Linked DNA regions of Homo sapiens. The protein of the gene in region 1 purifies or fractionates together with the protein of each later gene. This does not show direct contact. Each region holds a gene or a part of one and is shown in the gene's direction. Other genes may lie near its edges.

What was found.
Region 2: the proteins of CYBRD1 (region 1) and CDYL purify together in Homo sapiens (affinity purification with mass spectrometry; 2 studies listed by BioGRID and IntAct, with this or other methods). This does not show direct contact.

What each region holds. Positions count from the first base shown.
Region 1 is NC_000002.12:171,539,184-171,543,005, forward strand, and holds part of CYBRD1 (plasma membrane ascorbate-dependent reductase CYBRD1), read left to right. Parts: intron 1-2,401; coding exon 2,402-2,610; intron 2,611-3,822. UniProt on the Homo sapiens protein: Plasma membrane reductase that uses cytoplasmic ascorbate as an electron donor to reduce extracellular Fe(3+) into Fe(2+).
Region 2 is NC_000006.12:4,779,144-4,782,965, forward strand, and holds part of CDYL (chromodomain Y-like protein), read left to right. Parts: intron 1-3,822.

The sequences.
Region 1 (3,822 bases):
ATTAAGAAATGTACATGAGGCCAGGCACTGTAGTTCATGCCTGTAATCCCAGCACTTTGGGATGCTGAGGCGGGTGGTGCACTTGAGCCCAGGAGTTCAAGACCAGCCTGGGCAACATGATGGAATCCCATCTCTGCTAAAAATAGAAAAAATAGCAGCGTGTGGTGGTGCATGCCTGCAGCCCCAGCTACTCAGGAGACTGAGGTGGGAGGATCACCTGGTCCCAGGAGGTCAAGGCTGCAGTGAGCTGTGATCGCAACACTACATTCCAGCCTGGGTGACAGAGAAAGAAAAGAAAAGAAATATACGTGATACCCTGCTGATATAGTGGAATCCATCGTCTGAGGAAGTATTCTATAAACTTTTTCAATCTGCCACACATTTCCAGATATCTAAATTTTCCCTGACACAGACTGGAGGGATGGATAGGGGCAGGATTTTATCTTCAGAACAAAAATTAACTGAATGTTGGTTAAGGTGGCCATATAATTTATTGCTTAAACCAGGACACTTAAGACAACCCTTTGTAAAAAAACTTTTGTTTTCTTTTTTTTTTTTTCCCCGAGACGGAGTCTTGCTCTGTCACCCAGGCTGGAGTGCAGTGGCATGATCTCAGCTCACTGCAACCTCTGCCTCCCAGGTTCAAGCGATTCTCCTGCCTCAGCCTCCCAAATAGCTGAGATTACAGGTATGCACCACAATGCCTGGCTAATTTTTTTGTATTTTTAGTAGAGACAGGGTTTCACCATGTTGGTCAGGCTGGTCTTGAACTCCTGACCTCAAGTGATCTGCCCACCTCGGCCTCCCAAAGTGTTGGGATTACAGGCGTGAGCCACCGCGCCAGGCCATAAAAAACTTAATTGGAGTTTGTTCTACATGCAGAATGATGAATCTTCTGTCTATGACACCTGTGAAACCAGCACCTAGATTGAGAAACAGAATGTTAGTAGGAGTCTTCAAAATCCCTTGTGTGTTCCATTGTAATTGCTGTATCCTTCCCCACGAAGGCAACTACTATCCTGACTTTTCCAATGCAGAGATGAGTTTTGCTGGTTTCTATACTTCATATAAATTGAATTACACTATATACTTGTTAACGTCTGGCTTCTTGAGATTGACATTATAGGTTGATCCATATTACTGGGTCTAGTTCTAGTTGTAGATCGTTTCTTTCCATGGTGTAAATTTATTTATTCATTCTATTGATGATGGGCATTTGGGGGAGTTTCCAGGTTTTGGTTACTATAAATAGTACTGCTAATAATATTCTAGTATCTTTTGATGATCATATAAATATTTCTTTTTGGCATATACCCGAGAGTGAAATTGCTGGACAATAAGGTATGCATAACTTTACCTTAAGTAGATACTGCCAGTTTTCCAAAGTTTTGTTCTCATTAAAGCACTCATCAGCAGAACATTAGAGTTCTGACTGCTGTATATTCATTTTGATACTTGGTGTTTTCCAGGTTTAGCCATTCAGATATGTGGTAGAGGTATTCTCATTCGGCTTAAATTTGTATTTCTCTATTGCATGGTTTAAATTTGCATGTTTTTCTGTTCCTTTCTTTTTCTTATCAAACTAAGACTTTTTTTTTTTTTTTTGTCTTCCTCTGTTGCCCAGGCTGGAGTGCAGTGGCGCAATCTCGGCTCACTGCAACCTCTGCCTCCCGGGTTCAAGCGATTCTCGTGCCTCAGCCTCCAGAATAGCTGGGATTACATGTGCATGCCACCCCATGCCTGGCTAATTTTTGTATTTTTAGTAGAGATGGGGTTTCACCATGTTGGCCAGGCTGGTCTTGAACTGCTGACCTCAAGTGATACCCCGCCTCAGCCTCTCAAAGTGCTGGGATTACAGGCATGAGCCACTGGGCCCGGCCAAACTGAGACATTTTTAAGAAGAAAGGAGACAACAGGCATAAATCAGATTGTTAAGATTAGGAATTTGGTTTTGGATAAGTTTGAGATGTCTGGGAAGCAAACGCCGTACGGAAATACCAAGAAGACATTGGATTATGCAGATCTGAAGCTTAGAAGACAGTTCTGGGCTGGAGATATAAATTTTTTGGAGTCCCTGCCATGGAGACAGCATTTCAGTGAAAGAGTGAATGAGATCACCCACAAGAGGGAGTGCAGAGGGAGAAAAAGCCCTAGGACCGAGCCTGAGAGGCACCAAGGTTCATTCACAAGTTGGGAGTGAAGAAAATGCCAGCAAAGGAACTCCTCCACCGTCCCCTAGAGGGAGCCACTGAGAGGCAGGGGTAACATGGGGAAGAGGGGAGAAGCAAAAGCCAAGGGAAAAAGGTTTCAAAAAGGGAGTGTCCAGTGTGTCAAACTGTTCATTTTGTGTTGTTTAAAAAACAAAACAAAACACATTCTGTGTCCTTTCGTCTTTCCCTAGCCATCATCGTCTACAGACTGCCGTGGACCTGGAAATGCAGCAAGCTCCTGATGAAATCCATCCATGCAGGGTTAAATGCAGTTGCTGCCATTCTTGCAATTATCTCTGTGGTGGCCGTGTTTGAGAACCACAATGTTAACAATATAGCCAATATGTACAGTCTGCACAGCTGGGTTGGACTGATAGCTGTCATATGCTATTTGTTACAGGTCAGTATTTCAGTGTATTTACAAGCAAGTTATAAAAACAATTCAGAGACTGTAAATGTTTTCTTTTCTTTTTTTTTTTTTTTTTTTTTGAGACAGAGTCTCGCTTAGCCACCCAGGCTGGAGTGCAGTGCTGCGATCTTGGCTCACTGCAACCACTGTCTCCAGGGTTCAAGTGATTCTCCTGTTTCAGCCTCCCAAGTAGCTGGGATTACAGGTACCCACCATCGTGCCAGGCTAATTTTTGTATTTTAGTAGAGATGGGGTTTCACCATGTTGGCCAGGCTAGTCTTGAACTCCTGACCTCAGGTGATCCGCCTGCCTCAGCCTCCCAAAGTGCTAGGATTACAGGTGTGAGCCACCGCGCCCAGTGACTGTAAATGTTTTCTAAACATTCTTTACATTTGTTTCTATTATAACTATTTTCCCCTCAGAGAGCACCAGAATTGCAGAATTCACAGAACAAAATAATAAGAAATAAAGATTTCTTATACTGGATATGACTTTTAATCTGGATTCTCTAAAAACCAACTTATACTCTGCTCTATATCTTAATATGTAAAATTAAGAAATATCAGGCTGGGCATGCTGGCTCATGCCTATAATTCCAGCATTTTCGAAGGCCGAGGTGGGAGGATCATTTGAGCTCCGAAGTTCAAGACCAGACTGGGCAACATAGGGAGACTGTCTCTACAAATAAAGGAAAGACAGAGAGAGAGATCGAGAGAGAGAGAAATCAAGAGAGAGACTGATCTAACAATTAGCAATAAAGAGAATACCTATTTAAAAATCTGTGGGTCCTGGCTGGGCATAGTGCACTGCTCACTCCTGTGATCCCAGCACTTTGAAAAGCTGAGACCAGTGGATCGCTTAAGCCCAGACGTTTGAGATCAGCTTGGGCAACATGGCGGAACCTCATCTCTAAAACAAAAACACAAAAATTAGCTGGGCAGGGTGGTGCACACCTGTTGTCCTGGCTACTTGGGATGATGAGGTGCACAGCTCCCTTGAGACCAGGAGGCAGAGGTTACAGTAAGCTGAGATTATACCATTGCACTCCAGCCTGGGCAACAGAGCCAGACCCTGATCTCAAAAAAATAAATAAATAAAAATCTTTGGGGTTTAATTAAAATGGTTCCCAGAGGAATATAGGCTTAAATGCTTTTATTATATTTTTTGGAAAGAAAACTTAAAATACATAAGCTATTTACTTAG
Region 2 (3,822 bases), on another chromosome or scaffold:
TGTAGGGCAGAAGTGATACGCAATTGTAAATGAACGCGATAGTCTGACAAGGCTGGGAAAGACACTAAGATGATGTTTTGTGGCCAAGTCAAGGGTTGTTAGTTGCCTTGTTTTGTCCAGTTCTGCCTAAACTGAAATAGAAGTTTTCTGTTTGGCCTCAGGCTCCACAAATCTAGAGGGATATATTGACAGGAGGAAATGTGAAGTCTTGCTTCTTTGAACTCACATGGTCTGGTAGGAGGACAGGTCTGCAGTAACTGGGAACTTGGGTGAGTTACCCAACTGCTGAGCCTTGGTTTTCTCGCCTAAAAGAAATGTCTCCAATACTTAGCATGGAACCTGGTATGTAGTAATAGGTCTTTAGTAAATGTTTAAATGGCTATTGAAACTAGGCTTTGTGAACAAAAAATAAAGGAACAGATCCTGGAAAAGATGGGTAGAGCATGAACCTTGCAAAATTTGAAGAGTTACTATTAGTTGAAGGATGGAATAGATTTACTCCCTACTTTTCCAGCTGCTAGGATTGAGGAAAAACGGATTTTTGATGCGGCGTAGGTTAGAACTTCATAGTTTTCACAAAAAGACAAGCGTCCTTTACATCACGCTTCTAATGTAAAGGGCCAGATAATACATATTTTAGACTTGTGGGTTATATTATGGTCTTTGTTGCAACCACTCAGCTCACCTCATGTAGTGCAAAAGCAGTCGTAGACTCCTATATGAATGTGCGCTGTGTCTCAAACTGCTTATGGATAGTAAAATTCACTTAGTATATTTCATATCATTTTATGTGTCATGAAATACACATTTGTGTTTTTTTTCCAATCACTTACAAATGTAAAAATGATTCCTAACTTGTAGGTTCCACAAAAATAGGCAGTGGGCTGGCTTTGCCCTGTAGGTTGTTGTTTGTTAAGCCCTGCTGTAGGTGATCAACTGTCATAGTCTGTTTAGGAATCTGGGTTTACTCAAGGGTTGGGGATGTATGGAAGTTAGACGGTATTTCTAACTTTCATCCCAGCTCTAGACTTAGAGCTGGAAGATCTGGGTGGTAATCCTCCCTCCTTTCCTCCTTCCTTTCCTTTCTTTCTTTCTCTTTTTTTTTTTCAAGAGTCTTGCTCTATCTCCCAGGCTGATGTGCAGTGGCTTCATGTTGTCAGCTCACTACAACCTCTGCCTCCCGGGTTCAAAGCTATTCTCATGCCTCAGCCTCCTGAGTGGCTGGGATTACAGACGTGCACCACCCCCGCCTACGCCCCCCCCCCCCCGCCCCCGCCCCCGCCCCGGCTAATGTTTTGTATTTTTAGTAGAGACAGGGTTTCACCTTGTGGGCCAGGCTGGTCTCAAACTCCTGGTCTCAAGTGATCCGCCCACCTTGGCCTCCCAAAGTGCTGGGATTACAGGCATGAGTCACTGCACCCGGCCTTCCCTTGTTCTTAGAAGCTTGTTAAGTAACTCATCTTGTACTTGTCTTAACTATCCTAAACTTTCTCATCAGTAAAATAGGAGGATGATAACCAAATAATTGAGGCTTAAATGGCATTAGCGTGTAAAAGCAATTCTACAAAACGTTTTCCATTTTTAAAGAGGAAAAAAAACCCATCCAACTCTCAAACCATGAAACCAAACCTGTTTTCCCTTCCTCAAGATTTAGGATTTGAAAGTATTCTATAAACTGATTATATCACCAGAGAAAGCTGTGAGGTCAAGAGGACCTTAATTTATTTAGCAGTCAAGTAACCACCATGAGACTTTGTTCACGTGGGACTGAATAAGGAACGTATGCTGTAGTAAAATGGAATAAGTATTCTCTTTATTTGTATGTCTTAATAATTCCTTTTTTCCTCAGTAGATGTGGAGTTATTCCCTTGAGAACTCCTGTAATAGTTAATTCAAATTTCAGTAAGCTCTCAATGATTAGTCTTGACCTTCTGAGAGAATATTTATGTTTTCATTTTCAAAAATGGAAGTAAGCTTTTAAGAATGAAATCGTATCTGGTGTGTAAAAAATTGTTTTAAAGTTGATTAGTTTGACAGGATGATCAGGATTTGCAGGGGAAGGTAGGTCTTTTGAATCTTTCTTCCTACTTTGCGATAAGATTCCTGCTCTCTCCTGTGCACCACAAGGCTTTTACTTACATTGACCAAAAGCAGTTGTGAATAAAGTCTCAATCTGTAGTTCAAATGGAAGTCACAGAGACCAGGACACCTTTCATGGATGTTGGCCAAGCTAGGTCAGCGTATGTTGTATATGGTGTAGCTGTCTGAAAAGATTGGAATCACCAAAATTAGTAAAGAAAAAGAGTTCATTTGACTTCAGGAGTTGATAGTGAGGCAGTGAGGTCAAACATGCATGTGTGTTTTGACAATAATAGCCTATCTTAAATGCTCTTTTTCCTGTGAGTTGCTGAGAATATTATTTATTCATTTGCCCCAGCAGCAGTGTGGAGACCTCTCATGTGCTCTTCCTTTGAACTACTTTCAATTCCTGTGTACCAGAATAGCGTTTTTTTCATTCTTGCTGTGATATCTAAGAATCATAGACTGTTCCCTCGTGCTCTATAATGATTTTAACCACGGAGAATATTTTCATGGTATGTAGGCAACACTTTCTTCGCATTGTTCTGGTTCACAGTTTTGGATAACTGTGATTCACAAAGCCAGGCCTCAAATGAATTCTTTTGTAAATAAGGAGTGATAGTTTTTATATTGTGAGCACTCCTAGGTGGAACAGGACCAGCCTGGGGTCTTTTTTCAATTCAGATTCTTGAACCCAAACCACGAGATTATAATTTTCAATGTTTGGATGGAGACAGGAATCTTATGTTCCGAGAAGCTTCTTTTTGGAATGCAGGTGGATTTAGGAGCCTCTGGATACGCCCTTCTGTGTTTCAGACCCTTAGGCTCTGCGTGGAGGTGGGTGGGGGTGGGTTGGGGATCTGCCTGGCGGAAGAGGAGCTCTCGGTGGACCAGACTGGTTCTTTCTGCAGGCTCCTTGACCACTGCTGGTTGTTAACTGAGTAATTCCAGGAAGGGAATATTAAAAACATCAGGTAGTTAGCTAAGGGCGTTGTAATTTCTGTTTTCTGTCTTTATTGCCTGGCATGTTTGTCCACCAGAATGTAAGTGCTTTAAAGCTCAGATTCATTTTCTGGTCATTATTTTCCACAGCTCAAAATACTGCAATCGTTGCATAATTGTTGAGTTACTTTAATGGAAGAGTGAATTACAGGAATGAATCTCCATTCCTGACTCCTTACTTACCTCGAGGTTCCTCCTCCCCTAAGCATTATGCCTCTTGCTGTTCTTTTTACTCTTAGTTCCTCATCTGCTTACATGGTTTCAACTCTAGAATGGAGAATTTCACTGTTTCCCACACAAACTTAATTCTCTTCAGCCTTTTAAGCTGGGCAAGGTTTTGGGGTTCACGTTCTCTAGGAAGTCTGGGGAGGGCCTATTATGAGTCTAGATATGACTTTAAATCCAATTATAACCTCAAATAGAATTTTATGAAAATTTAAACAAGTACATATGAGCATATTTCAGAGGGAGAGAATCAAGAGCTTTCATCTGATTCTCAGAGGGATATAGGACCCAAAGCAAGTATTAAAAACTGCATCGAGACCTTTGAACTAAGACTTATCTGTGGCTGCCCTCCACGGACCACTTTGACATTATTTTTGTTGAACTGTCCTCTGCCACAAATTACAGTAAAACCATATTAAAACCTCACTGATTGGGTTTAGAAGTTGTATGCTATTTCTAGTCTTTAAGTGGCTAATTTTGCAGCTATGCATACATGATGTCTAAAGATAGTCAGTA